Linked DNA regions of Homo sapiens. The protein of the gene in region 1 interacts with the protein of each later gene in a pairwise test. Each region holds a gene or a part of one and is shown in the gene's direction. Other genes may lie near its edges.

What was found.
Region 2: the proteins of AKAP9 (region 1) and SAMD3 interact in binary tests that used the Homo sapiens proteins (3 or more experiments, as listed by UniProt).
Region 3: the proteins of AKAP9 (region 1) and TNIK interact in a two-hybrid assay, tested with the Homo sapiens proteins (2 studies listed by BioGRID and IntAct).
Region 4: the proteins of AKAP9 (region 1) and SSX5 interact in a two-hybrid assay, tested with the Homo sapiens proteins (one large-scale study listed by BioGRID).
Region 5: the proteins of AKAP9 (region 1) and KIF19 interact in a two-hybrid assay, tested with the Homo sapiens proteins (one large-scale study listed by BioGRID).
Region 6: the proteins of AKAP9 (region 1) and MYO5A interact in a two-hybrid assay, tested with the Homo sapiens proteins (one large-scale study listed by BioGRID).
Region 7: the proteins of AKAP9 (region 1) and EEF1D interact in binary tests that used the Homo sapiens proteins (3 or more experiments, as listed by UniProt).

Annotation. Positions count from the first base shown.
Region 1 is NC_000007.14:92,107,511-92,111,510, forward strand, and holds the end of AKAP9 (A-kinase anchor protein 9), read left to right. Parts: intron 1-983; coding exon 984-1,123; intron 1,124-2,611; coding exon 2,612-2,649; 3' UTR 2,650-3,163; downstream 3,164-4,000. UniProt on the Homo sapiens protein: Scaffolding protein that assembles several protein kinases and phosphatases on the centrosome and Golgi apparatus. Required to maintain the integrity of the Golgi apparatus. Required for microtubule nucleation at the cis-side of the Golgi apparatus.
Region 2 is NC_000006.12:130,149,778-130,154,121, reverse strand, and holds part of SAMD3 (sterile alpha motif domain-containing protein 3), read left to right. Parts: intron 1-4,344.
Region 3 is NC_000003.12:171,058,181-171,062,524, reverse strand, and holds the end of TNIK (TRAF2 and NCK-interacting protein kinase), read left to right. Parts: 3' UTR 1-4,111; downstream 4,112-4,344. UniProt on the Homo sapiens protein: Serine/threonine kinase that acts as an essential activator of the Wnt signaling pathway. Recruited to promoters of Wnt target genes and required to activate their expression. May act by phosphorylating TCF4/TCF7L2.
Region 4 is NC_000023.11:48,186,796-48,191,139, reverse strand, and holds part of SSX5 (protein SSX5), read left to right. Parts: intron 1-871; coding exon 872-1,007; intron 1,008-3,408; coding exon 3,409-3,509; 3' UTR 3,510-3,513; intron 3,514-4,003; exon of another isoform or gene 4,004-4,060; intron 4,061-4,283; 3' UTR 4,284-4,344. UniProt on the Homo sapiens protein: Could act as a modulator of transcription.
Region 5 is NC_000017.11:74,349,760-74,353,650, forward strand, and holds part of KIF19 (kinesin-like protein KIF19), read left to right. Parts: intron 1-641; coding exon 642-816; intron 817-947; coding exon 948-1,146; intron 1,147-2,107; coding exon 2,108-2,378; intron 2,379-2,456; coding exon of another isoform or gene 2,457-2,459; coding exon 2,460-2,581; intron 2,582-3,061; coding exon 3,062-3,195; intron 3,196-3,436; coding exon 3,437-3,542; intron 3,543-3,734; coding exon 3,735-3,822; intron 3,823-3,891. UniProt on the Homo sapiens protein: Plus end-directed microtubule-dependent motor protein that regulates the length of motile cilia by mediating depolymerization of microtubules at ciliary tips.
Region 6 is NC_000015.10:52,522,077-52,526,420, reverse strand, and holds part of MYO5A (unconventional myosin-Va), read left to right. Parts: intron 1-2,218; exon of another isoform or gene 2,219-2,239; coding exon of another isoform or gene 2,240-2,338; intron 2,339-4,344. UniProt on the Homo sapiens protein: Processive actin-based motor that can move in large steps approximating the 36-nm pseudo-repeat of the actin filament. Can hydrolyze ATP in the presence of actin, which is essential for its function as a motor protein. Involved in melanosome transport.
Region 7 is NC_000008.11:143,583,916-143,588,259, reverse strand, and holds part of EEF1D (elongation factor 1-delta), read left to right. Parts: intron 1-1,407; coding exon 1,408-1,531; intron 1,532-1,969; coding exon 1,970-2,041; intron 2,042-4,344.

The DNA of each region.
Region 1 (4,000 bases):
TGCATTGAGATAGACATCTTTGTTATATATAATTTACATAATATGACCAAGTGCGGTGGCTCACACCTATAATCCCAGCACTTTGGGAGGCTGAGGCGGGCAGATCATGAGGTCAGGAGTTCAAGACCAGCTAGTTGGAGACTAGCCTGGCCAACATGGTGAAACCCTGTCTCTACTAAAAATACAAAAAATTAGCCAGGCGTGGTGGCAGGCGCCTGTGGTCCCAGCTACTTGGGAGGCTGAGGCAGGAGAATGGTGTGAACCCGGGAGGCGGAGCTGGCAGTGAGCTGAGATTGTGCCACTGCACTCTGGCCTGGGCAACGGAGCGAGACTCTGTCTCAAAAAAAAATACAAAAAAATTAGCCAGGCATGGTGGTGGGTGCCTGTAATCCCAGCTACTCAGGAGGCTGAGGCAGGAGAATCGCTTGAACTCAGGAGGTGGAGGTTGCAGTGAGCCGAGGTCACGCCACTGCACTCTAGCCTGGGCAACAAAGCAAGATTTGGTCTCCAAAAAAAAAAAAAAAGAAAAAAAATATACATAACCTAAGGCTTAATGTAAAAATGTAAAAACCAGTGTTTAAATTTGTAACTGATTTCCAAGGGTATAGCAAACAAGCTGACCAAGTGTTATTTAGTGTATGCTATGGTTAGATATTGGGAAAAGTATTGACTAAAATTGATACTCTGATCATTATGAAAAGCTTAACAGTCTTCATGACAAGATACATTTATACATACCCAATTTATTGAGACCTCTGCCACAAGCATTGTATTGGACATTCTTATGTTGACTTAGTAGCATCTTTGAATTCATTGGAGAGTTGTCTCTTTCTCATCCCAAGCTCCAAAGCTGAAGCTTGGAGGAGATACATTATGTGTGTACAAGTGACCCACCTTTTTGGGGAAGGGAGTGGAGGCAGGTTGGTAACTTATATGCATATTTCTGGATAACTTGATTCATGTACATATTTTTAATCCTTTAGGTACCCAGGCACTCCAGCTGATTTCAATCCTGGTTCTTTAGCATGTTCTCAGCTTCAGAATTACGATCCTGACAGAGCCCTAACAGATTATATCACTCGGCTAGAGGCACTGCAAAGACGACTTGGAACTATACAGTCAGGTGCTCTGAGTTTAACCACATCTTGGCAGCACCACAGTGCGAGACCCACAGCTCCCCTTTCTTTGAAATTCTTTCACACTCATTAGGATAATCAAAGCTTCCAGTTTAGTGCATGAGCTAATTATTAAGTTAGCCAAAGCTTAAACTCTTGTAACCAGCAGAGAAACTGACTTTAAATAATTTAAGTGAAAATATGATTTATCACCCCAGATCCCACTCCTCCCAAAAATGATTTCCTACTATGTTCATTCAGCGGACTGATGACACAAAATGCACAATGAGCACCAGTGTGCAAGGTACTCTGAGTCTACAGAGCCTAACTGGAGAACGTATTCCTAAGTAGCGCATGGCAGAAAGTGGTAAGGCCGTGCCGCAGCACTCCAGCCTGGGCAGCAGAGCGAGACCCTGTCTCAAAGAAAAAAAAAAAAAAAAGAAAGTGGTAAGGCATGCAAATCGGGTGGAGTTAAGGAGGAAGCACTTACTTTAAGCACTTAATGTAACCATTATCCCTGCTACTATATTGTGCTTTTATGTATCATCGAAAAAAACTATCCCATTTAAAATACTTTGTAAGGATTATTTTTTCTTTGTTCAAAAACAAAAAACAAGTCATACTTTAAAATAAAGGTGGATTCCCTGTTCATGGAAGGAAAACCTCTTTTCCCTATCTCACTTCAGTTCACTCCTGATTCAGAGACTTTGAATCATTGAGTAGTTTATCTCTTCCTTCAAGAAATCATTTGTTTACACCCAAGCATCTTGTAGTAATAGGAAACTTTTATTATCATAGCTGAGTTTGTTGGTTTGCCTAGGCTTGTTTTGTTTTGAGCATCCAAATTTCACAAGACCCAGATTTTGAAGACCAAAAGATTTTTCAAAAATGTATGAGGTATAGAACATCCAACTTTGAGAGCACTTTAAAAAAACTCTAAATATTAGTCTCACCTACCTTGCCATAGAGCCAGTCATGGTGATTTTTACATATATATTCAAAATCTCTTAAAAGTCAGCTTAAGTATATGGGCTGGGCGCGGTGGCTCATGCCTGTAATCCCAGCACTTTGGGCGGCCGAGGCAGGCGGATCACTAGGTCAGGAGTTCAAGACCAACCAGTTCGAGACTAGCCTGGCCAACATGGTGAAACCCCGTCTCCACTAAAAATACAAAAATTTGCTGGACATGGTGGCATGTGTGGATAGTCCCAGCTACTCAGGAGGCTGAGGCAGGAGAATCACTTGAACCCAGGAGGCGGGGGTTGCAGTGAGCCAAGATCACACCACTGAATTCCAGCCTGGGCAACAGAGTAACACTCCACCTTGGGGGTAGTGGGGAGAGACTCAGTTTAAGTATGAAGAGGACATTTTAAGGAAAAAAAGGGCTTTAAAAAAATGGAGAATAATAATAATTTCCTTTGTGTGAACTCTGGTGGGTCTGATACAGGTAGCAATGTAATTTGAAATCAGTTGAATTTCCTGTTTTTCTCTCATAGGTTCAACTACTCAATTTCATGCTGGCATGAGAAGATAATCCTTTGAAACATCATTAATTGAAGTGATTTTAAATAGATTTCCTTTTGTAAATCAATGGTTCTTTTGTGCTTTTGTATTGTGAATATTCAATGGGACCAATATGAACACAGCTTATGATTGTATACAAATCCCTTGCCAGCACATGAAAACAAACTGGAATTTGTATATATAAGCATTGTGTATGTATTCATGCACAATAATTATTGAATTACCTGTATATTTGTGGAATGCTAATTTAAAACATTAAATTATAAACCTTGTGTATTTATCAAATGGGTGAAAAGATTAAACTTTTACGCATTACAATACTGCTGAATGTGTAGCTCGAGGTGTCCTGCACTTTTCTTATAAGGCTACTGAAGTTACATGTTTTGCCTAATATATTCTACTGGTGATGAAGACAGATAATATCACTTGTAGAGACCTATTTTTGTATAATGGTAGAAGTTTTGAATTTTATGGGGTATTTTGTCAAGTACTGAAATAAAAATGACTTCACCATTTTCACCACACTGTATTTGAACCTTCTTCATTTTTAACTGAGCCATAGTTCTTGGTACATAGCATCTCATTACTTATGTCAAATATGTAGGAGTGAGAGATTCAGAGAAAGTTGTCCTAATCTTAGAGTTAATACTGTTGAAAGTTTTCCATGTGTCTTTGTATCAACTTTACATCTACATAGTGTTTTTTAAAAGCTATATTGGTATTTCATGATTAATCAGTATTTACTATATTACAGTTAGTGTTACTTGTTTCCAAAGATGTGTTCTCACAAATCCATGGCCCACTAAAAAGATGAAGAAATCATTAACTCAAAAGATCTTAATCACATTGCAGCCGAATTAAACAGTATCCCTGTTGTCCAAGCCAAATTCAGACTGGGAGGCTCTCACAGAGATAATACAGATCGCAATGTTATTTCTCATCTGGAGTCCTCCTCAATAACATGGCAACTCACTAAAACAGCAAGAGGACTAGTATTTGATGCTTACACCTGGAGGATTTTGTCTTATTATTTGATGTTCCATGATTTATACCAACACAAACAGGCATGGTAGAAAGTTGTACATGCTTGAACATTTCTAATTTCAGTCATCCCTCGGCATGTGTGGGGGATTAGTTCCAGGATCCCCCTTGGATATTACAGTCCGCGAATGCTTAAGTCTCTTATAAAACAATGTGCTATTTGCAGATAGTCTACATACATCCTCCTGTGTACTTCAAATCATCTCCAGATTATTTGATACCTAATACAATGTGAACATTATGTAAATAGTTGCTAATACTGTATTTTTTTATTGTGGGGTTTTATTTTTAGTATTTTGAACCTGCAGTTGGTTGAATCA
Region 2 (4,344 bases), on another chromosome or scaffold:
AGTGTGAATCATTATTCCCTTTCATGCTTTTATGTAATCAAGGTAGTTTATTAAGGAACTGTTATTATGCATCCTTAGTAAAAATACGTTTCCTTTATGATCCCAAATAATTTCATAAGTGTCCTTAAATATATATGAAATTTAGGGCCAGGCATGGTGGCTCATGCCTGTAATCCCAGCACTTTGGGAGGCTGAGGTGGGTGGATTGCTTGAGCCCAGGAGTTCAAGACCCGCCTCAGCAACCTGGTAAAACCCCATCTCTACTAAAAGTACAAAAATTACCCCAGCTTAGTGGTGCGTGCCTGTAGTCCCAACTATTCTGGGAGGCTAAGGCACGAGGATCACCTAAACCTGGGGAGGTCAAGGCTGCAGTGAGCCATGACTGAGCCACTGTACTGCAGCTTGGTGACACAGTGAGACCCTGTCTCAAATTTTAAAAAATAAATAAATAAATAAATATATATATATATATATGAAATTTAATGGGTAAATCAATCAAATACCCTTCCATTTAGTTCACTTAGAGTGGCCATTCAAGGTTCTTTCACAATTTTAGTGTAATTTTTGGTGGTGGTATATAATGAAAGATCATCAAAGGTTTTACCCGAGAACATATTTCATGGAGAAATTCTATGTATTCAATTAACCAAATTAAACATGAAACATCTACATATTTTTCTTCTGAGCAAAGGGAAATAAGAATTGCCTGTATTATTTTAATAGAAACATAAGTAGCAAATATCTGAATGCTTCTCTGTAACAGCATGTTCTCAGTGCTTTCCACGGATTAATCTACCTAATCCTCTCAGCAACCATACTGTGGCTTTCGCTTGTTTCCCCTTAATCTTCAGGTTGTAAGGAACTGTAATAGCCAGTCATCTCTGGCTGTTAGAAAAGTATGCCAAATGGACACATCTGCAAAATACAGTTTTAAAGCAAAAGCCTGTCAAACTTACGGTCTATACACTCCTTACATGTAGGGAGCACGTGTTAATATTAACAGTTCCCAAAGTGCCTAGCAGAGCACCACGTGTGACACAGCAATGTAATCTTGATTTTGTGAATGCTGAGTGAATTAGTGGAGGTTGGTAAGGCTGTTGTGATCACTAATGTCGTAGCCTTAGGGGTCTTCATTGGAGTGTGGCCTACAAAGGCTTAGTGATGAATATAAATGGACTATGTTAAGCAGCTTTTCAAAGAACCATTGGTGACAGTAAGGTGGAGGTCTGTCATAGCTTATGTGAGGAGCAGAGAGATTTCAGACCTGATGCTGTCCCCTGTGCTTTTGTCCAGGCCTCCTGCTGTGGCATAGGTGTATCTTCCGCACCATTCCTCAAGTATTTCACCCTTTATATCCAAAATATGGAGTATGGTTTTTGTAATGACTGTACTTATTGAATAGAGTTGCCTGTTGATTGTTTTATTTATTTATTTATTTATTTATTGAGACAGAGTCTTACTTTGTCGCCCAGGCTGGAGTGCAGTGGCACAATCTTGGCTCACTGCAGCCTCTGCCTCCCAGGTTCAAGTGATTTTCCTGCCTCAGCCTCCCAAGTAGCTGGGACTACGGATGCACGCCACCACGCCTGGCTAATTTTTATATTTTTAGTAGAGATGGGGTTTCACCATGTTGGTCAGGCTGGTCTTGAACTCCTGAGCTCAGGTGATCCACCTGCCTCAGCCTCCCAAAGTGCTGGGATTACAGCTGTGAGCCACCGTGCCCGACCTGATTGTTTTAGACAAAAGAACGAATCATTTTCGGTTTTTCCAGGAAGTACCTCCCTGACTCAGCCCTAGGCAGCTGGGATTTCCAATTTATAAAACTCTTGTGTGCCTCCTAAAATAAAAGCAAGTTTGACCTCGCAAATACCTAGTTAACAAATGATCCCGTAAGAGGACAGTTGTCCCTGCACCAAACCACCCCCACCGCCTGTTGCTCCTGCCATTGTGAAAACACTGAGTGCTTAGGGAGCTGGTGGAGACAGGGTGGCAGAACAGCAGCAGCCGGGGTGGGCGGTGGTCCTGGCTGTTAACACTGACCCCCCATCACCTCCATGCTCATTAACCTCCTTCCTCAAAAAACTTTCTTTCAACAAGGCATTTAAAAATTCAGAATGTAACCATTTACTTTATTAGATTATCTAAAATATTATCAACTAGGAATGTGTTACTGGGATCTACTGGATGTTGCACAAGACAAGTAGGAGGGAGTTGAGAAGGAAAATACCAAACACAAACTGAAACCCTTCCCCAAATTTTCCAAAAAATCCTTTCAGATGCCATAGTTTCTGCCTTCCTGAGAAACAATTTCAATCATCATCTCTTTAAGTGAAGTACGTGAGAATCGCCAGCTAATAAAGTCTCAAAAAATTAAAAAAATCGGCCAGGCATGGTGGCTCATGCCTGTAATCCCAGCACTTTGGGAGGCCGAGGCGGGCAGATCACCTGAGGTCAGGAGTTCGAGACAAGGCTGACCAACGTGGAGAAACACTGTCTCTACTAAAAATACAAAATTAGCCGGGCGTGGTGGCACATGCCTGTAATCCCAGCTACTAAGGAGGCTGAGGCAGGAGAATCGCTTGAACCTGGGAGACGGAGGGTGCGGTGAGCCGAGATTGCGCCACTGCACTCCAGTCTGGGCAACAAGAGTGAAACTCCGTGTTAAAAATAAATAAATAAATAAATTTAAAAAATAAAGAATTTGAGTTTGGTTTTGGCCCAAATGGAGTAACTGGTACTGGTCTAGTCTTCCCACTGTTAACATGGATAAAGCTGGAAAAAAAAAATATGTATGAGGCAACTGCACTCAGGCATTAAGGTACAGGCAATGCAGGACCCTGATCCTTGGTAACGGAAAGACATAAGATGTGCCTCAGTTTTGTGCATGGGTTACTTTCTAGCTCACTGTACAGAATGGTGGGAGGCAAGCAGCATGCGGAGGTCTCATGGAGCTGCACAGGAAGAGATTAAAGTTGAGGAATGATGAAGCAGCTGGCCTTTGTAGGACAGGCACTGGAGGAAAGTGGGCTGGGCCGAAGTCTACACACGGATCCCCTGGGGATCCTTGGCTGAGAGCCGAGACTTCACACAGTGTTGCTAATAAGAATTCAGGCTAGGTGTGGTGGCTCACGCCTGTAATCCCAACACTTTGGGAGGCTGAGGCAGGCAGATCACTTGAGGTCGGGAGTTCGAGACCAGCCTGGCCAACATGGTGAAACCCTGTCTCTACTAAAAATACAAAAATTAGCCGGGTGTGGTGGCACACACCTGTAATCCCAGCTACTCAGGAGGCTGAGGCAGGAGAATGGCTTGAACCTGGAAGGCAGAGGCTATAGTGAGCCGAGATTGTGCCACTGGACTCCAGCCTGGGCGATGGAGTGAGATTCTGTCTCAAAAAAAAAAAAAAAAGAATTCTGGCCCAGTGTGTAGAGACCCTGCAGAACACCTCAGCATTCATCTGAGACTCCAGAAAACAATGCCTCATGAGTGAGAACCATGCCTAAGTTTGAGCCAGGACCTTAGCTAGGACTAAGGACAAACAACAAAACAGAATTGCCGAAAGAAATGATAAAATCAAGTCTGACAGGACCAGAAGATCCACCATAATTTATCTGCCTATCAGAACAAAATTTAACACCCTTTAAAGGAACATAATTTAATCCAGACTCCCCACTAGTGGATCACTAGAGGTTACAGTGAGCGGCGCCATTCCCATTTCCAACTCTTGGTTCCTGGACCCATGAATTCTGGCTATGGAAGAAACTGCACTGTATGCTGGATGCTGATTCAGAGCTTATACAGCCTGGGAGAACCTTGTCCCAGCCCCACAAGGTATTGCCACCTAGCTGGTGCTGTAACTGAGTCTTCAACAGGCCACTCCACCAGTCTGGCAAGCCAGCTGCTTCAGGACAGGACGGTGGGGAACAGGATAAGACCAGTAAATTCCATGTATCATCACCATAGGGAATCTCAGCAGAGAAATGAAATACACGCACACACACACGCGCGCACACACACACACATGAACCAAATTGAAATTCAGAGCTGAAAAGAACAGTTATCTGAAATGAAAACATCACCATGTGCGTAGGCTTAAAAGCATATTGGAAAATGAAAAGAAAGGAGCTGTGAATCTGCAGATAGATTAATAGAAATTATCCAGTCTGAGTAACAGAAAGAAAAAGGATTAAGATGATTAATTTGTAGGACATAATCTGGGGTTGTGAAAAGGGGGGCTTTCTTTTTGTTCCAACTTTTAGGTTCAGCAGGGGATACGTCGTGCAGGTTTGTTATATAAGTAGATTGCATGTCGTGGGGGTTTGGTGTACAGGTTATTTCATCACC
Region 3 (4,344 bases), on another chromosome or scaffold:
TTACTCAAATGATTTGAACTTTTATGCGACTGGGATTTTTTTTTTCCAAAGCTACAAGCATGGCCGCCTGTGGTATCGAGGTGTTGCAAACAATATCTGTGTTGCGCTTCCTGTTTTAACCTACCTCGTTTTGTTTGTTTTTGTTTCACTGTTCATCACAGCAGTGTTATCTCCAGGAGACATATAGAGAGCTCAACCGGCAATCTCAGGTGCATTTAACATTTTTAAAACGAAACAGTAGTTGACCAAATTTTTCTTCTTAAAAAATTGGAAGTGGGGGGAATCCAATGACAAAAACTAATGTGGCTTGTTTCTGGAGAAAATAATTACTGTAAATGGAACAACAACAACAAAAAAAACTACGATCTTACTGACTTTGCCTAAATACACAAGCAGCTGATGTACTATTAATGAGAACGAAATACACATTAGGAAAATGGAGCCATTTCAATCTAGTGGTTTGGGCAAGATGGGGAAGAGAAGGGGAAACATTCTAGTTTCTGGATTACATTATTATGCCCCTCCTGAAAAGGTGGTTGTCATTTGCATTTATTTAAAGCAGGTAATATGCAGGAATGTAACTGAGGATTATCTTCAGGCAATCAGCAAGATATCCTCCTCATGGTCCCTTTAGCTCTCAAAAGCAATGAAATCCTCCTGTTCTCATTTTTACTGCTGTGGTTGTGCTGCTGAACAATACTATCTTCTCAAATTCCATGCCACAAATTCAGCAATAACTTTTTGGATTGAATTTAACAACTACTGTAATTGGATGCTGATGTGGACAAAATATATTGATTTCGATTTCACTCCCGAATGTGATTGCCACCAGCTCTTTATATTGCTGCTGTGGTATTTTAAACCAGAAGCTTCTTTAAATTATGTTGCAAACTGATCTTTGTTTTTATGTTTTGTTTTGTTTTTATTTCTAAGTGATAAGTTTGAAACACACAGCTTTAAATGATTTTTTTATTGTGGGATTTTGGGTACAGTTAAGAAATAAAAGGGAATCATTGTGTTTAAACATAAGGTAGTTTGTGAATGTATTTTTTAAAATCTAGAGTCATTGAAACAAATCATAAGAAAACAATATTAATGCAGTCTTGTTTACAGTATGTACAGTGACATAACATAGAACATGAGCTTTTCTGGTGCCAACAACAATAAAACACACGTTAAACATCAAGCCATGCCTTTTATATTTTTGTACTAATATTTTACACTGAGTACAAGGCAAATCCAAATTTAAATGGGCCCCCCAGAAATCTGTGCTCTTTAAAAGACAGATATTTAAAGAATTCACTGAAGCTTTTATCTTCAAAAATAAATTTTCCTCCAGCAAGACAGACCCCAGCCCTGACATAAGGAGGCCTAGAACATGCAGAATACGTCAGAATGGTGTCCTTGTGGCTCATCCAAACTTTCTGAATTGCCTTAATTCTTTTTGGGGGTAGGGGAGGAACGGTTGCTTTTCATCCATTTTTATAGCATCTCAACAAAAAAAATCTTCAGTTCTGATCTTTTTATAGGTGATTTTGTCTCTAGAAATTGGCTCATTTTATTTTTATTTTCCTACAAAGAGAAACTGGAGAAACTGAGCCCTCCCCTCAGAGTAAGTTTCACTAGATCTGCCAGTTCTTACTGCTCTAAATTAATAATCATCCAGTAAAATCTACTGAGCCTGCCCACACCATAGTCTGGGTCTGGGGTCTGGCAGGTGACCATCATTCCTGGGTGCCAGTCAAAGATACTGTAGCATGGATTCCTGCATCCAGTGGTGGTAGGAATGGATGACCAGTGAAGTTCCTTCAAATAATGAGGCTCTTCCCCCTGCCAGTTCCAGCCAGACCACTGTCATAACACACAATGCAAATGAAGACAGCCTTCACTAAGTTCCACATAAAATTGAACAGCTCTATTTTAGATAGATCTCATTATTTTTCTTGGAGACTTCTAAACAATCCTTCAAGAAGACCTAGAACTATTATTTTTATTAAACAGGGTATATTAAGTTATGGGTGAAATCTCACAAGGTCACCTGGACAGGGGCTCCATTTTTCTAACACTTTGACATTGTTTTCTAGGGTGCACTCCTAATATACTTTGCATCAAGTACATGTTTTTTAAAAACACCTTAGTTCCTGGTTGTCAAAACCTACTAACAATTTTTGTCTGTTCTTGTGACTCATTGGTAATTGGTGTCTCTGGTCCCTCCTGTCCAGTAGATTATTAGAAAGATGTGAAATTCCAGCCAGAACCATTTTGGTTTTATCCACTGCCAGGAAAGGAAGGGGCTAAAGTCTCACATTCCACGAAGCTTTTAAAAAAATGCTTTCCCTACTACTATGTGTACCAGTTCCCGTCACTGTATTCTTGAAACGTGGAAGAGCTCTTTGTGTTAACAGTGTGTGCTGTCTTTGAAAGTCTGCTTGAACAGGCATCACTTGCATTTGTGCTGATTGCTTTAAGATGTAAGATGTGCTACATTATTTTTAAGAAAAAAAATAGTTATTGATAAAACTTTTAATTTTAACCTACTGCAGGAAAACATGAGAAAATCCACAGCATGCTGATAACAATTCTGAATGATGCTACTATGCTCTTTATATTCCAGAATCACCACTGGTACCATGTTCTGATCATTTCAACAGTCTCTAACTTGTTAGTTACCTTTTAGTTCATTCTTCAAAATTTAAATCTAACCAAATCAAGCAAAACATAACCAACCAACCAAAAACTGACCTCCCCTGAGACTACATAGTTGTAACATAAATCTAAAATCCAAAAGTCTAAATTTGATTTAATTTACCTGCTAATATTTCTCATAAATGCCACTATATCTCCTTGGTCACTATATATCAGGAACCCTAAAGTAAGCTGTCCTTTCATGGATCTTAAATAAATTGGGTGTAAAATTGATCACTTTTCAGGAGTCCCAGCAAAGAAGAAAACCTCTTGAGAATTTGCAAGTTCAAAACTGACAATTTGTATATTCCTACCAAACATTTTCTAGGTTGTTTTTATTTCTACACCATTATTCTGGGAATTCTTCCATTGATAACTAGAATATTCAACAGTTTGCTTAGCATTAAACAGTGTGAGATCATAACCCTGTGCTTTGGACTTTATTCTTCTAGACCTGCCATTCCAGGAAGTGCCAGAATATACCAAAATAAAAATCCCCATAAAAGCATTTTTAAACAAAAATCCCTGGGTAATGTTTGAGTTATTTTAAATCTAGATCAAAATCTTGGATTCTTCTGAGTCCATGATGACAAATGTTTGGATGAAAAGTAGAAAATACAGTTAAAAATAAAAATGTCCTAAAGTTTACAGATTTTTGAGTTTGTGTACATATCTTCAAACTCACTCCTTGCATGATAGGGTTTGGTTTTAATGGTTTATTTTTATCAGCACCAAGTTGCATTGCACTATTGAGGCTGAGCAAATGCTGGTGGAAAGGTGAGTTTTCATTTCTGGCAATGGATCATTATTTGTACACTGTAAATATCATGCCCAGCTACCCCTTTCCCTTATCTCTTCCCCTGGGATAAATGTTAAGGAATAGTAATACTTATTATGGTATGTTTAAGAAACCTTGGACATTACCCTGAATCAAAACTTCAAATGTTAGGTGGCAGCAGGAAACAAAAGATTACAGCTTGAATGAAATTTTAAAATTGAATGTTGTAAAACTATTTTTGAACGTTTTAGCTGCCTTATTTATGTTAATATAACTGTAGAGAGATGCCAAATGTATAATATCAGAAGGGAAAACTACGATTTTGCTGTGCCTACAATTGTTTACATTTTTTAAATCTCCAGTTTTCAAAAGTATTTTAAATTGTCAAACATTTGCTAAAACTGGATTATAACCTCACCTGAGAATGAGAGAAGAAAATCTTCCTGGCATATTTTCCAGTCTGAAACTTTTGGTTACTTTCAGGTATTTTTTTTCTTGCATACAAAAATCATTGAGAAAGTACTTTCTACAGTTATTCTAAGCAGTCATTAAAAATGCTTTGATAGGTTTCCCCACATGGTAACTACCATGTCCTGGAATATAATATGCTATCTTTGTCAAAATATGAATAATAAAACATTAATCGTAGGATGCCTCCTTGTTCCTCATTGCCACTTCCAAACTATTCTCCTTTCCTCCTCCTGAACACTCATTGTTTTGAAGCTGTTGACATCAGCCTCCCAAGTCCCTACATTACCCTCTTTTACTCCTTCTCATTGCTCAAGAATTTTAGGTTTTGGCTCACTGTTGCTCTCTTTACCACCACCCTGTCATCATTCTTGATTATTTCAATATCCACTTAAGACAGTCCTACAAATACC
Region 4 (4,344 bases), on another chromosome or scaffold:
TGAGGTCAAGCGATCGAGATCATCCTGCCCACCATGGTGAAACCTCGTCTCTACTAAAAATACAAAACTTAGCGGGGCGTGGTAGTGCCTGCCTGTAGTCCCAGATACTCTGGAGGCTAAGGAAGGAGAATCGCTTAAACATGGGAGTTGGATGTTGCAGTGAGCCGAGATCCTGCCACTGCACTCCAGCCTGGCAAAAGAACGAGACTCCATCCAAAAAAAAAAAAAAGTAGCTTAAGAGTGTTGGTCAGTGATACATCCCAATGCAACCAGAATTGTTATGGGTACCACCTCACTGAATTCCACATTCAATGTTGGTGCCTCGGTAGGCTGGTATGCCAGATCTGGTACTGCTTTCTTTGCTGCCTGGATTAATTTCAGCAAACCATTTCTTTCCCTCTCCCTTCCCTGTATACATCTCCCCACACCATCTTGTTCAGCAGTGTTTTGTCCCCTCTGTATGTCTTTACATTTACTCTCCCAGCAGCTGTCTACGAGCTTATATGGGATCCCTTGTATTTTACGGAAACTCTTCCCTTTGTAGACCTTGTGAATTCTTAGAATGCTATGCTCCAAATCTTCTGTATACCAAACTCTCAATTACATGGAGATATTTGCTGTTTGCAAGAATGTCAGTCTTAAAACAGTGTGAAGATAAGAAGAATTCTATCCCTGGAAACCATATTCAGTTAGGCCATTCCTTTCCCATCTAACCTCCCCTCCCAGGTTTCTCCTAATTTAGGCAAGTGTAACTCTCCTAGCATTGTTGAGAACATTGATTAAGGTAATGCATGTGAAGATTCTTTGTAAGCTCTAAAGCACTAAAGAAATGTCACTGATACTGTTTATCTGTGACCTTCACATTATAAAGATCACGCCCGAGAAGCCAGCAGAGGAAGGAAATGATTCGAAGGGAGTGCCAGAAGCATCTGGCCCACAGAACAATGGGAAACAGCTGCGCCCCTCAGGAAAACTAAATACCTCTGAGAAGGTTAACAAGACATCTGGTAAGAGAAAAGAATTTGGGAACAACCACTCTGGCTTTTCTCGCTAAGTTCAGGTGTGTGGACTGGGTGTGTGGCATGGACCCCAGACAAGCCTGGGTCCAGGCTGGGCTGAGGAGCTCGCCCAGCTCCAGATGAGATGTTACACATGACTTCCAGAGACACAGACTGGAGTTGTCATTCATATAAAAAAACCACGTGACTTGGGGCAAGTCTTCCAAATTTTCTTAGCTCCAGTTTCCTAGTTTATAAGTTGGAAATAAAGAATCTCAGTTCATAAATTGTTTGGAGGCATTAAATTAAGTCTAGAAGGCCTGATGACATGAAAGGTGCTGAAGCAATTCCATCTGTGATTACCTGGGATCATATCTTACTCAGCTCAATGCCTGTTACCCGATATAGGTGTACTTCAGAGATATTGCATGTTCAGTTCCAGACCACTGCGATAAAGTGAGTCACACACATTTTTTTCTTGGTTTGGCAGTGCATAAAAACATTATGTTTACAATATACTGAAGTCTACTAAGTTTGCACTAGCATTGTGTCTCAAAATGTATATATCTTAATTTTAAAATAATTCATTGTATAAAATGCTAATAATCTTCTGCGACTTCAGTGAGTCACACTCTTTTTGCTGGTGGAGGATCCTGCCTGGGTGTTGATGGCTGCTGGCTGATCAAGGTGGTGGTTGCTGAAGGGTGGAGTGGCTGTGGCAGTTTCATAAAAGAAGACAACAATGAAATTTGCCACATCGATTAGCTCTTCCGTTCATGAATGCTTTCTCTGTAGTATGTGATGCTTTTGGATAGCATTTTACCCACAGTAGAACTTCTTTCAAAGTTGAAGTCAATGCTCTCTAGCTATGAAAGTCCTAGATGGCATCTCCTTCCAATAGAAGGCTATTTTATCTACATTGAAAATCTGTTGTTTAGTGTAGCCACCTTCATCAGTGATCTTAGCTAGATCTTCCGGATAACTTGCTGCAGCTTCTCCATCAGGGTTTGCTGCTTCACCTTGCACTTTTATGTTATGGAGACGGCTTCTTTCCTTAAACCTCATGAACCAACCTCTGCTAGCTTCACACGTTTCTCCTGCAGCTTCTTCACCTCTCTCAGAATTCATGGACTTGAAGAGAGTTTGGGTCTTGCCCTGAATTAGACTTTGGCTTAAGGGAATGTTGTGGCTGGTTTCGTCTTCTATCCTGACCACTTTCTCATTTAAGCAGTAAGGCAGTTTTGCTTTCTTATTCTTGTGTTCACTGGAGTATTAGTATTATTATTTTCTTCAAGAACTTTTCCTTTGCATTATATACTATTACTTCCTTCAAGAACTTTTCCTTTGCATTCACAGCTTGGCTGTTTGGTGCAAGAGGCTTAGCTTTCAGCCTGTCTTGGCTTTCAGCATGCTTCCTCACTAAGCTTAGCCATTTCTAGCTTCTGATTTAAAGTGAGAGACATGCGACTCTTCCTTTCATTTCAACACTTAGCGGCCATTGTAGGGTTGTTAATCTTCCTAATTTCGGTGTTGATATGTCTCAGGAAATACAGATGCCCAAGAAAAGGAAGAGAGGCAGGGAAGAGCTCATCGGTGGAGCAGTCAGAACACACACAATATTTGTCGATTAAGTTTGTCAACTTCTATGAGTGCAGTTCCTGTTACCCCCAGAATAATTACATACAACAGGGTGATTATAGTCAATAATAACTTAATTGTGCAGTATGAAAACTAAAAGAGTGTAAATGGATTGATTGTAACCAAGGATAAATGTTTGAGGGGATAGATCCCTTATTTTCCATGATGTGATTTTTACGCATTTGCATGCCTGTATCAAAACGTCTCATGTATCCCATAAGTATATACACCTACTGTGTACCCACAAAAATAAAAAACAGAAATTATTTTAAAAGACTAAAAAACAATAAAAACAATTGCAGTAATAATATCAAAGCTCACTGATCACAAATCACCATAACAGATATAATAATAATGGAAAAGTGTAAAATTGGTGAGAATTTCCAAAAAAAAAATTGCAACATCTGTGAAGCAGTATGAAAATGAGGTGCAATAAAACAAGGTACGCCTGTGTGGCCTTAATAAATACGTGCTGAATGAAAGGAGGTAAGGGTGAATGTTCCCGTAAGTGAAGAGGTTGGGAATCTAAACCTGACAACGGAAGGAGCCAGAAGCTAAAACTTTAATTTGCATTTGGCCTGTATTGGTGTGGGTCTAAGGTCTCAGCCTCTCTAAGCCAGAGAATGTGAAAAACTGGATAAAGAAGACCCATGGGCACTTGGTGGTGGGGAGGCATCTCCTTTTTTGGAGAAAACAGAGCCTAACACTCTCCAATCAACCCAACCCTCTCCAATCTACCCAACCCTCATCTTCCAACTCTTCTCCATCATAGGACCCAAAAGGGGGAAACATGCCTGGACCCACAGAGTGCGTGAGAGAAAGCAACTGGTGATTTATGAAGAGATCAGCGACCCTCAGGAAGATGACGAGTAACTCCGTAAGTGAACCTTTGGCTCATCTCCCACATCCTTGCAGATGTGCTATTCTGTTATGGTACTGGTATCCCATCTTATCAGTTGTTCCCCAAATCATTCCCTTCTCATAATTTTCTAGGGTACAGCATTGAGGCTGAATGATGAAATTTCCCATGTTTTTTTTTGTGGGTGGGGGAGTCTCCTTTTGTTCCCCCAGGCTGGAGTGCAGTGGCATGATCTCGGCTCACTGCAAGCTCCGCCTCCCGTGTTCACGCCATTCTCCTGCCTCAGCCTCCCCAGTAGCTGGGGCTACAAGCACCCGCCACCACGACCGGGTAATTTTTTTTCTTGTATTTTTAGTAGAGACAGGGTTTCGCCATGTCAGCCAGAATGGTCTCAATCTCCTGACCTCGTGATCCATCTGCCTCCGCCTCCCAAAGTGTTGTGACTACAGGCGTGAGCCTCTGCGCCTGCCTAACCATGCTCTTTCTACTCCCTGCCCTCTATATCCAGGGATCCTCCCTACCCAGGATGCTGTGGGTTCCCAAACCCCAGGTCAGCACTGATATGCGGGCCACACCTTCCTCTAGCCTAGGAATTGATAACCCAGGCGAGGAAGTCACTGTGGTATGAGCAGATGGTTCACTTCAAGGAACCATGGAAGGCGTGTACAGGTCCTGAGGTAGGGCAGAATCGGAGTGGGCAGGGTCTGCAGGTCAGGAGGAGTTGAGATTGAGTTGTCATGTGGTGGGAACTCACTGCCACTTACTTTCCTTCTCGCTTCTTGCCTCAGCCTCGGGGATATGACACATGCCCATGATGAGAAGCAGAACGTGGTGACCTTTCACGAACAT
Region 5 (3,891 bases), on another chromosome or scaffold:
AAAAAAATTTACTAATATAAAGAGAGAGGCAGACAGTAAAGATTTTTTTTTTTTTTTGAGACAGAGTCTTGCTCTGTTGCCCAGGCTGGAGTGCAGTGGCATGATCTAGGCTTACTGCAACCTCTGCCTCCCGGGTTCAAGCGATTCTTCTGCCTCAGCCTCCCAAGTAGCTGGGATTACAGGTGCCCGCCACCACACCTGGCTAATTTTTGTATTTTTAGTAGAGACGAGGTTTCACCATGTTGGCCAGGCTGGTCTCGAACTCCCGACCTCAGGTGATCTGCCTGCCTAGGCCTCCCAAAGTGCTGGGATTACAGGTGTAAGCTACTGTGCCTGGCCACAGACGGTAGTTTCTAGGGGCACCTTTTTATAGTTGGCACAGAGGTGCTGTAAGGGTTAGCAGGAGCCCAGTTCATACCAAGGAGCTGGGAATTGCTTTTGGGCAACAGCTTGAAGACTCAATGTGGGAGTGGGGTCTGGGAGGATGTAGTAATCTAGGGGGTCTTCCTGGAGGAAGCAGTTGGACAGGAAGTGGGAGCACTGAGTTGGGAAGAAAAGGAGGGGAGGGGCCCAGGTGGGCCCAGGCTTTGCTAGCTGAACTTGCCGCCTCCTCTACCTTGCCCACCCTCACCCATCGGCAGCTGAGGTCCAGCTGCACAGCGGGCAGGGTGAGAAGGCTGGCATGGGACAGCTTCGGGAGCAGCTCGCCAGCGCCTTCCAGGAGCAGATGGATGTGCGGAGGCGCCTGCTGGAGCTGGAGAACCGCGCCATGGAGGTCCAGATTGACACCTCCCGACACCTGCTCACCATCGCCGGGTAAGCCCCCCTCCCAGGACCCTCCAGGCCCCACCCCTGTGCCTGGGACAGAGGAGCACGACCTGTGGCTGTACAGTGTGCCCTGCCCCCATGGCCTGAATGCCCTGTCTCTCTGGGTGGGGCTGCGGCAGCTGGAAGCATGAGAAGTCCCGCCGGGCCCTCAAATGGCGGGAGGAGCAGCGAAAGGAGTGCTACGCTAAGGACGACAGCGAGAAGGACTCAGACACAGGTGATGACCAACCAGACATCCTGGAGCCACCCGAGGTGGCCGCAGCCCGGGAGAGCATTGCAGCCCTGGTGGACGAGCAGAAGCAACTGCGCAAGCAGAAGGTGTCCAGGGTTTGGGGGGACAAGGAGAGTGGGTTTAGGGGACAGGGTGAGCAGGTTTGAGAGGCAAGGCGGAGGGGCCAGGGTGGGGGTAGCCGTGAGACTTGGGAACTCAGGCCACAAATCCTGTGTGACTTTGCTAAGCTCTTTAACTTCTCTATGCGTCACATTCCCCACCTGTAAAATGGGAGCAGTCCATGGTGCAGCCCTCATGGGGTTGCTGGGAAGATTACATAAATGCCTGGCACATACCAAGGACTCAAAAAATGGTAACTAATGTTATAATTAGGGTTTTTCAGGCTGGGCACAGTGACTCACACCTGTAATCTCAGCACGTTGGGAAGTTGAGGTAGGCAGATCACTTGAGGCCAGGAGTTCGAGACCAGCCTGGCCAACATGGCGAAATCCCGTCTTTACTAAAAATACAAAAAAAAAAAAAAAAAAGCCTAGTGTGGTGGCTCACGCCTGTAATCCCAGCTACTCGGATGGCAGAGGAATAAGAATCACTTGCAACCCTGCAGAGGTTGCAGGGAGCCGGGATAGCGCCACCGCACTCCAGCCTGGGTGACAGAGAGAGATCCTGTCTCAAAAAAGAAAAATAATAATAATAATTAGGGTTTTCCCAATAACAGATCTTTGCCTTCTGTTCTGGGACATACCCAGACCAAAGGGGCTTTAGGGTATCATGAGCCCTGAGGGGGTCACATGGGCTGGGGTTGAGCAGTTATCCCCCAAGCTGGTTCCAGGGGTGGTTTGCGGTCAGGATAGCAAGAAAGTGGACACTGAGGGGCCACCTTGGAGCAGTCCCTGATTGTAAGGCCCAAGATTCAGCTTTTAGGGTTGGCCTCAGGCTGGAGCTCCAGACAGATGCCTGGAGTCCAGGCGCTGGAGGGTCGAGGACGAGCTGGGCAGGCGGATCGGACCCCTCTCCCCGCTGCCAGATGCTGACCTGCGCCTCCTGCAGCTGGCGCTGGAGCAGCGCTGCCGGGAGCTGCGCGCGCGGGGCCGGCGCCTGGAGGAGACGCTGCCGCGGCGCATCGGCTCCGAGGAGCAGCGCGAGGTGCTCAGCCTGCTGTGCCGCGTGCACGAGCTCGAGGTGGAGAACACCGAGATGCAGTCGCACGCGCTGCTCCGCGACGGTGCGCTCCGCCACCGCCACGAGGCCGTGCGCCGCCTGGAGCAGCACCGCAGTCTCTGCGACGAGATTATCCAGGGCCAGCGGCAGATCATCGACGGTAGGGCCCACGCCCCCGCGCATCTGAGCCACCCGCGGGGGGGCCGCTGGCACTCACTGAGCCCTGCCCCTTCCCCAGCAGACTACAACCTGGCCGTCCCGCAGCGCCTGGAAGAGCTCTACGAAGTGTACCTGCGGGAGCTGGAGGAGGGCAGCCTGGAGCAGGCCACCATCATGGACCAAGTGGCCTCCAGGGCCCTGCAGGTGGGTGGGCGCCTGGGCGGCCTGAACATGGGCACATGTGCCCAGGGAGGGGCTGATGACCAAGGCAATGCCTTCAGGCAGCTGGAGGGGACAGGACCAGGCTGGCTGGCACCCCAGGGAGTTGACTCCCTTTCCTTCTTACCCCACCCAAAGCCTTGTCAAGCCTGAGTAAGACCCTCCTCCTTGGGCACTCCTGGGCATCACTTGCTCCCACCCAGGGTCTGAGGGTCAGGGCTGGCCATCTGAGATATCACAAATGGCTCCAGCTGCCCTCCCAGGAGACCAAGCATCAGGCAGTGCCACTGGGGAAGCCTAGCAGACCACAGCTTAACCCCGAGGACCCAAACACAAGCCCACTGCCCTTCTGGGGCTCCCAGGCCATCTTACAGCCCTTGTCACCCTGTAAGCCTTTGTGACTCTGTGCTGATTTGGTCCAGGACCAAATCTTCTAACTGTCCACCCTGGCTCCCTCCTCCCCAGGACAGCTCCTTGCCCAAAATTACCCCAGCAGGAACCTCACTGACCCCAGATTCTGACCTGGAGAGTGTGAAGACATTGAGCTCTGATGCCCAGCACCTGCAGAACAGCGCCCTCCCTCCCCTCAGCACAGAGAGGTGAGATGGGGGCCACCTGCCCCAGCCCCCACCCTGTGCCCTGTCCCAGAGAGGCCAACCCAGACTAAGGCTAAATGGGGAACACAGAGCAGCAATGAGAGGGAGCAGGTGGCCCAGGTCTGGAGCCAGGACTCCTGGGTTCTCTCTCCTTTCACACCAACAGCTTCTCCCCTGGGGTGGGGGTGGGACCTCGGTGAGATAGCCTGGTCTACAGCCACTCATCTTCCTCTGCCAACTTCAGTGAAGGCCACCACGTGTTCAAGGCTGGTACTGGGGCCTGGCAGGCAAAAAGCTCCTCTGTGCCCACCCCACCTCCCATCCAGCTCGGCAGCCTGGTGACGCAGGAGGTGAGCTCTCAGTACCCGATGGCCCCACGAGCTCCACTGCAGCGGGTGCGGGACATGGGGGTGGACAGCAGCAGTTGGGATGGACCCTTTCCCAAACGGCACCAGCTTGAGGCCCCGCTGTCTCTGCTGAGTGGGGCATGGGGTCCCTGCTGTGTTTAAGGGTTTCCTCCTCCCAACCACTCCACCCCACAGGCCCCGGCTCAGGACAGCCTGGGCAGCTGGATCAACTCTTCCCCTGACAGCAGTGAGAACCTGTCGGAGATCCCCTTGTCCCACAAAGGTATGTGTGCCCTCTGCTGCCCGGCCACCTCACCTGGCCTTGTCTAAACTGTTCAGATCACCCAGCTCA
Region 6 (4,344 bases), on another chromosome or scaffold:
GCCTGGGCAACAAGAGCGAAACTCTGTCTCAAAAAATAAATAAATAAATAAATAAAAATTAGCTGGGCGAGTTAGTCACGCCTGCGGTCCCAGCTACTCGAGAGCTGAGGCAGGATGATCAGCTGAGGCAGGAAGATTGCTTGAGCCTGGGAGGTTGAGGCTGCAGTGAGCCATGACTGTGCCACTGCACTCCATCCTGGGCAAAACAGCAAGACCGTGTGTTGAAAAAAAATTTTTTTTAACCTCTTTGTCATTATAAAGACAGACTGGCTTAGAGATCAAGACTGAAGTTGGGGCTTACACTGCCTTCTTCTAAATATACTTATGCCTAATTAATAGTCTGGTTACTTGGTTATTTGTTGGCAAATTCTTTTTGTGAATGGGCCTTAGCTTAATGGCAAGCAGAAATACTTATCAGGCATCCTGTGTGCCAGGTACTTTGCTTAATGTTTAGAGGATTTAACAATGAACAAGATACAGTCCTTTCCCTCAACACGCTCATAGTCTGCTTCTTACATTCTTGACCCACTTTGAATCTATAGGGGCATAAATAACCTGCTGTTACCTCAACAGCAGGCAGACAGCTGGTATGATATTTATTAGTAGAAGTTAGGGAATGGGTTGGGACATGGGGAAGGTTGGGCTGATTCCAGAGATAAAAACTACTATTGTAATTACTAGAGGAATAGGAAAATCATTAGAAGTATTATCAGTGGATAAGCACAAGGATCTTCCCCTTGCAGAGGATTATAGGAAGGAAGTTCTAGGATAGATTACAAGGAAAGATGTATTAGTGATATGCCATAATTATGGTATTTAACATTGTGGTTAAATCTGAAAAGTGCTCTTTAAAAAAATGTCATTCAGATCTTAAGGGCAGATTTTAATGTGTGATACAGATCAGTTCCTATTACAGTGAAGGACAAGAGACTGTTCAATTTCTTCTTTTTAGCCAGAATGGTAATGGTTTTGTCACAGCAATTTAACAAGGCTTCCATTTTGTAAGTTTTTCCAGCAGTATAAACATTTTAAGGACAATAGCTAGGTTCTTGGGATACTTGTCTGGAAACGAATATTTTGGTTAAAACATGTTTTGTTGATTTTTAAAAATAACAGCTTTATTGAGATATGTGTCTTATACCATATAATTCACCATTTAAAGTGTACTATTCAATGGTTTTTGGTTTATTCACAGAGTAGTATGTTGATGTGTTTGTGGTCAACCTGCCTTGCTCCCAAAAGAATTAAAGGAAACTATGATATCTCATTGCTTCTGATTTTGAAAATATTTGCTAGTCTTGACTTGCCAGTGGATATCTATATCATACATCATCCATAGGTGCTTTTGGTAACTAGAAGCAATTCTACATTTGTGGAGTAGGGTTTATCAATTAGACCTAGAAGGATTATCGGGAACATTATAATGAATGGCATGCTATTCCTCCTGTCATCATGTTCCCAGACACCATGGATAGCACCATGGTATCCATGCTATAGGATGGTCAAGATTACTTGAAGCTGGGTTTTTTTTTTTTTAATTTTTTATTTTTTTTGAGACAGGGTCTCACTGTGTCACCCAGGCTGGAGTGCAGTGAAATGAACATGGCTCACTGTAGCCTTTAACTCCTGGGCTCAAGCTGTCCTCCCACCTCAGCCTCGTGAGTAGCTGGGACCACAGCTATGCACCCAGCTAATTTTTAAATTTCTTCTAGAGATAGTCTCAGTATGTTGCCCAGGCTGGTCTTAAACTCCTGGACTCAAGTGATCCTCCTGCTTCCACCTCCCATAGTGTGGGATTACAGGCATGAGCCACCACACCCAGCCTATTTTATTTATTTATTTATTTATTTATTTATTTATTTATTTAGGTTCAGGGTCTCACTCTGTTGTCCAGGCTGAGGTGTAGTGGTGTGAACATGGCTCATTGCAGTATCGACCTCCCAGGTGCAAGCCATCCTCCCACCTCACCTTCCTGGGTAGCTGAATCTACAGGCATGTGCTACCAAACCCAGCTAATTTTTGTACTTTTTACAGAGACAGGATCTTGCTGTGTTGCCCAGGCTGATCTCTAACTCCTCAGGTCAAATGATTCTCCTGCCTCGGCCACTCAAAGTGTTGAGATTACAGACATGAGCCACCATGCCTGGCTTATTTTTAATTTTAAAAAAGTTTTAATTTTTTTGTTTACTTTTGTGTTTTGTTTTGTTTTTACCTGAAGCTGTTTGATTAGGAGGTTCCCATGTGTGCTGAGATGCTGAGTATTGTAACAGTGCAAAGACAATCTAAAATTCCACATTTGCAAAGCATGTTAACTTGCCTAGATGAAACAGCTCTTAAGGTCAGTAGATTGTATATGTGTAACTTTCCATTCCCAACATATCCTCTCATATATACAGGAGCCACATGGCCTAGATTTTTTCTGGGATAGATCCACTTTTATATTCTATGGCACTGTCTCTTCAAACTACTGATCTTGGAAATTCTAATATTTTCATGTCGAGACTGTATTTCTCAGACTGCTTCCAACATCTTAAAGAGGAACAGAAATCTCATCTCTGATCATGTGCCCTGACTTGGAGTTTGGCAAGGATGTTAGCTGTCCTCAAGTCTCCTGTCATGCCCTTTCCATTTGAATTTCCTCCTGGTGTTCCTAGGCCTGTTAACGACTTGCTGTTCTCCTAGTTCCGCAGCTTGGAAACCTCCGTATCTTTTTTCTTGTCTTTCACATTCGACTTCTTCTATATCAATTCTAATTTCAGTTGACATCCAGCTGATAGCTCAGATTTGGAACTCCCACTAGTACTCTTTTTCTCTGTCTTAATGTCCCAAACATGTTTCTGTCTTATTACGGTTACTGTATTTGTGTATATGTTTACCACTCCCACGATACTCTAAGCCCCCTGACATGCTGTTTTGTTTACCTCCTGTAGAGCCTAGCCCAGTGTTACACAGAATAGCTGCTCATTGAATATTTGTTGAATGAATACTTAAGCAGGGGAGGGATGGAATGAAAATAATGGTTTGGCATGATCAGTCCACTTGTAGGGACGAAGCAGGGTATAAAGATGTGGTTAAACAAGTAAACACATTTTCAGGCATGTTGAACAGGATGAGTAATAGAACTGGGAACCAGGGAGACCAGGAAACTTTCAGGAAACAAAATGTGAAGTGGTGAAGGTCTGGTGGACTGAGGCAGGGGCAGAAGGTGTGGGAAAGAAGAGGATAAATCCGAGAGACAGGTCTCTCCGAGATGGATTACATATAGGATGGGAAGGAGCAGGAGTAGTATGAAATAATGCCAGTAGCTCCAGACTTGGAAACTGAAAATTAATTCCTGTTTCATCACAAATTTTGACTGCCTCTGTGGAACTTGAATGCTACTAAGAAATACTTCTTTACATAGCTTGACAAAGCAAAATGCCCATTATTTCCTCTTGAAATTTGTTACTGTTTCTTGAAGTGTGAAAGTTTTGTGTATTGTCCAGAAAAGATTACAGAGAGATTCTGATTCTAATGAGAATTGCTGCTGCCACATATTTTAGATCTTCCTGGTACTTTTAGCTTTTTTTTTTTTTTTTTAAATAATGAAAGAGAACTGGAGGAAGCTTTATGAATGGGCTTCCAGGGATTTAACTGTAACCTCAGGGGAGGGGTGACAGGGAATGCTAACTCGTGTATGGGAGAATGTGGGAGAGGAGAGATGATCCGCCTTACTTCTTACCTCAGAAGGTAATTTAGTTTCTCTGTTTTTCATTTTATGATGAATTTTGCCTCCATTGGGAGAATTCAGGAGTACGTGGTCCACTAGAGGATAGACTTGGATGTATTTGTCTCCACTTCAGGCAATTCCCAGTGAAGTATGAGGTACTGTTGGAAGTCTAAACTTCTGATCTGTGGAGTAAGGTCTGGCCATAGACAAAATATTATGTGAGCAATTCCACTTCTTCCACCTCACCTGAAGGCATGTCCTCCATCCTACAGTGGTCTTCCTAGACTTATTCTATTTATCTTCCTAGGGAGTTTGTCCTTTTCTCCCCAGCACCACCCCACTCCCAATCTTTCATCAACTTTATTGAGGTATAATATACTTGAAAAGTCCCTCATTTTAAGTGTACAGTTTGATGAGTTTTGACACATATATTCTGTCATGTAACCACCGCCACAAACAAGATGCAGAACATTTCCATCACCCCAAAAGTTCCCTTGTGCTTTGTCTCTTATCTTCCCCAACATCTTCAGGGAGTTTACTGGAGTTATGCTTGCTCATTAGGGCAGAAGGAAGTTTTTTCTTTTTGGTTTTTCCGAAATGAATGCTATGGTTCCACCTTAGCCCAACCAATAGAG
Region 7 (4,344 bases), on another chromosome or scaffold:
AGTCAGGGAAGGACTCTGAAGGTCCCAAGCAGCTGCTGAGGCCCCCAAGGAAGTGGTTCCAACCTTGGACCCCTAGGGGTCTGGATTTGCTGGTTAACAAGATAACCTGAGGGCAGGACCCCATAGGGGAATGCTACCTCCTGCCCTTCCACCTGCCCTGGTGTTCACGGTGGCCTGGTCCCTCCTTGCCGAGAGAGTGTCCTGGGTCAGGGACGCAGAGGACGCTCACAGACTCCAGCCCTTTGTTACCGAGAGGACACTTGGCAAGGTCCAGCGATGGTCCGGAGTCCACACACAGACTGGCGGCAGGGCAGGAGGGGGACAGTTCTGTTGTGCTTGGTTGGACAGTAAGAGGGTCTTGGCCAGTCCAGGGTGGGGGGCGGCAAACTCCATAAAGAACCAGAGGGTCTGGGCCCCGGCCACAGAGTCATCTGCCCAGCTCCTCTGCTGCTGGCCAGTGGGAGTGGCACGAGGTGGGGCTTTGTGCCAGTAAAACCACAGGCTGGATTTGCCTGCGGGCCATGGTCCCTGTCTAGGGCAGCAATTCTCAACCTTCTTGCTCTCAGGACCCCAAAGAGCTTTCATTGTATCTATTGATTTTTACCACATTAGCAATTAAAACTGAGAAATGGGCCGGGCACGGTGGCTCACGCCTGTAATCCCAGCACTTTGGGAGGCCGAGGCGGGTGGATCACCTGAGATCAGGAGTTCAAGACCAGCCTGGCCAACATGGTGAAACCTTGTCTACTAAAAATACAAAAAATTAGCCAGGCACAGTGGTGTGCACTGGTAGTCCCAGTTACTCGGGAGGCTGAGGCAGGAAAATCGCTTGAACCCAGGAGGCGGACGTTGCGGTGAGCCGAGATCGCGCCGCTGATTCCAGCCTGGGCGACAAGAGTGAGACTCCATCTCACACAAAAAAAAAATAACAAAAAAACTCAGAAATGCTAAGTGTACTTATTTGTTGAAGAAACTTGTTACATATTACTAACATCTTTTTTTTTTATGAGAAATACTTTTCCCATAACCAAAAAATTCAGTGAGCAGAATGGCCTTGCTTGAGGTTTTTGCAAATCTCTCGGGTGTCTGGCTTAGTGGGAGGCAGCTGGGCCCTCATACCTGCCTCCGCACTTCAGCTGTTTGACATAAACCCAGCTTCGTGTGAGTGAAAGGGAAGGGCCTGGGGACCCTCAGAGGTTCTCGGACCACACTTTGAGAACTCCTCGTCTGGAAGACAGGCCTGGGGATGCCATGTGGGGTGAGGGCTTACGGGCTTGGTGTCGCTTTGTGGAGAACCGCTGGTGTCTGAAGCGGGTGTCAGCCCCACTGCACCTTGGTGCTTCTGGGCTGTCCTGATGCCGAGGCCCACTTCCCAGCCATGCTGACTTTGCCTCTTTCCCCTCCCAGCAGAAAAATGGCTACAAACTTCCTAGCACATGAGAAGATCTGGTTCGACAAGTTCAAATATGACGACGCAGAAAGGAGATTCTACGAGCAGATGAACGGGCCTGTGGCAGGTGCCTCCCGCCAGGTGAGAGCTGCACGTGGGGCGGCTGGGCGGCTCTGCTGCCCGACAGGAGTGGCCGGGGCACACAAAGCGGATTCAGCCAGGCCAGGAAGGCAGAGGCACCCTGGCCCAGTGGCTCTGCTGTGGGTGCTGGGAGTGGGGTCTCGGGGCAGGCGGCCTTGGCCGGGCCCCCGGGCCGGGTCTGCTCAGGGCCCTCCTGCCGGCGCCTGTGCACTTGGTGTGGGGCCAGGCCTGGCACTCCTTCCCCCGCAGACATGGGCGCCTTTGCCTGTCGTCACAGCCTCAGGCATCTCCCGCTTTTCTGGCCCGCCAAGCTCTCGTTCTGTGCAGTACTTTCTTGCTGTCTCTATGTGAGGGTTCATGGGGTTTTTTGGTTTGTTTTTTAATTAAATTCTTTTTTAATAATAAAAAAAAGACTGGTTCTTTCTGCACTGTCTGCAGGAGAACGGCGCCAGCGTGATCCTCCGTGACATTGCGAGAGCCAGAGAGAACATCCAGAAATCCCTGGCTGGAGTGAGTACCCGCGGCCCACGGACCTGCGGGCTCCTGCTCGGCCAAGCAGCATGTCTGATTTTTCCTGATGCTGCTGGTTGTTTTGGCTTCACAGCAGAGTCAGGGCAGGGTGCACGGCGCTGTGCTCCTTGGGACGTGTGGCTCTGTGACCTCCATGCCCGGACTGCCACGGACAGTGTTCTTATTCTCGCGTCCCTTCCGTGCTTACCTCGTCTGCCGGCTGGCGGTCACACTGGCCGCTCCTGTGGGGCCGGCTGGGAGCTGAGTGGTGCCATTTGCAGGGTGTCCTGTGGGCACCTGGCATGAGAGCCTGTGCCTCCCTGCTTGCTCCCTGTGGCAGGACTGTGTGTCTGCTGGGCCTTCCCACATTCCCTCTTAGATCTTGCCTCACTGGGGAGAGAGAAGTGGTGGTTCTGCAAGGCGCAAGGAGTTCAGAGCCTAGAGTTGGCACCGTCTTGAGTTGGAGACCCAGAAGGAGCCCTGTATCCCTGCTTGGCCTCCAGGCCCCGGGCCAAGATCAGGAGTTGGAGGCAGTAGCTGTGGCCTGACAGGCTGGCTGGGGAAGGGGTGTCCTCCGGGAGGTGGCAGCCCTGGTGTTCCCGAGGAGTTGGGACTGCGTTCTCCCCGGGACGGGGTGGTGTCCTGGCCCCAAGAACGGGGTCAGTGTTTCTGTGGCTGCTGCTATGGCTTTCCACAGCCTCACGCTGGAAACAGTACATCTGTATCATGCCGGGTTTCCAGGCCAGAAATCTGAAATGTGTCTCACGAGGCTGTCCCCAGTGTCAGCAAGGTCGCCATCCTTCCAAAGGCTCAGGAGGAGTCTGTTCCTTTGCCTCTCCCAGATTCTGGTGGATGCCCACGTTGCTTGTTTCAAGGTGCTCAGCAGGCAGCCTCATCCCCGCCCCGCCTCCACTTCCATCTCGCGCCTCTCTCGAACCTCCTGCCTCGCTCTGTCACTTACGTGGTTCTTGTACTTGCTTTGGGCCCCCAGGATCCCAGGTCCAGGATGTTCCCACCTCAAAATCCTGAATTTAATCGTGTTTGCCAATTCTTCTTTTTGCCATGTAAGGTAGTGGATTTGCAGGCTCTGGGGGTTGGGACGTGGGCGCCGGAGATTCTCATTGTCTCATTTGTAAGGTGCATTGCTCCTCACCAACATCTGCAGAAGCCTGGGTCCCCCACAGTGTCCCTCCAAAGTCCAGAATCCCATCCAATCAGGCATGGGGGATTGCGTGGTCCATCCTGAGGCAAAATTCCTCTCCATCTGTGGACCAGTGAAACTGGAAAGCAAGTTATCTGCTCCCAAAATACAATTGTGGGACAGGCATTCCCTTTCAAAATGGGAAAAAGAAGAAGGAAACAGGGCGTCACTAGTCCCAGGCAGTTTCACAGTCCAGCCCGGCGGGTCACGTGAGGTTTGAAGGGAGCGCTCCTGTGTGGCCCATGGTCCCCCCCGCTGTCATTTTTTAACATCCCTATTCCTACCAACAGCATGTTCGTGGCAGTTTAGGTTGTTCTAGAAGATGACGTGTTTTCTCTGCCCTGCTCCTCACCTCCTCTGAGTCCTCACCGAGGGCCTTAGCATCTGAATTCTGCCAACAGGGTGCTCAAGACAGGCTAGGGTTTTTCTTTTGGAGGGGGTGGGTGAGTTGTGGACAGAGTCTTGCTCTGTCGCCCAGGCTGGAGTACAGTGGCATGATCCTGGCTCACTGCAACCTCAGCCTCTGGGGTTCAAGCGATTCTCCTGTGTCAGCCTCCCGAGTAGCTGAGACTGCAGGTGTCTGCCACCAAGCCCAGCTGACATTTTTTTTTCTTTTTTTTTTTTTTTTTAGTAGCGGCAGGGTTTCGCCATGTTGGCCAGGCTGGTCTTGAACTCCTGACCTTATGATCTGCCCACCTCGGCCTCTCAAAGTGCTGGGATTACAGGCGTGAGCCACTGTGCCCGGCCCAGTCTAGGGGTTTTCTGTCACGCTCCTCAAAATTCTTCCCGCCTCACCACTGCCCAACTCCAAAGCCATCTCCACATTGTTAGGCATTCCAGCAGCACCCCACTTCCTGGGCCAGGATCTGTGTTGGTTTCCACTTGATGTTGCTGTAACGTTGCCACACTTCCGTGGCTTAAAACAGCACAAGTTCCTCACCTTACAGTTCCGGGGGCCAGAAGTCTGAGATCATCTTATGGGGCAAAATCAAGGCTGTGGTCCTTCTGGTGTCTCTGCGGGGAGAATCCGCTTCCTTGTCTCTTCTGGCTGCTGGAAGCTGCTCACGGTCCTTGGCCCAAGGCTCCCAGGCAGCTGTCTTGT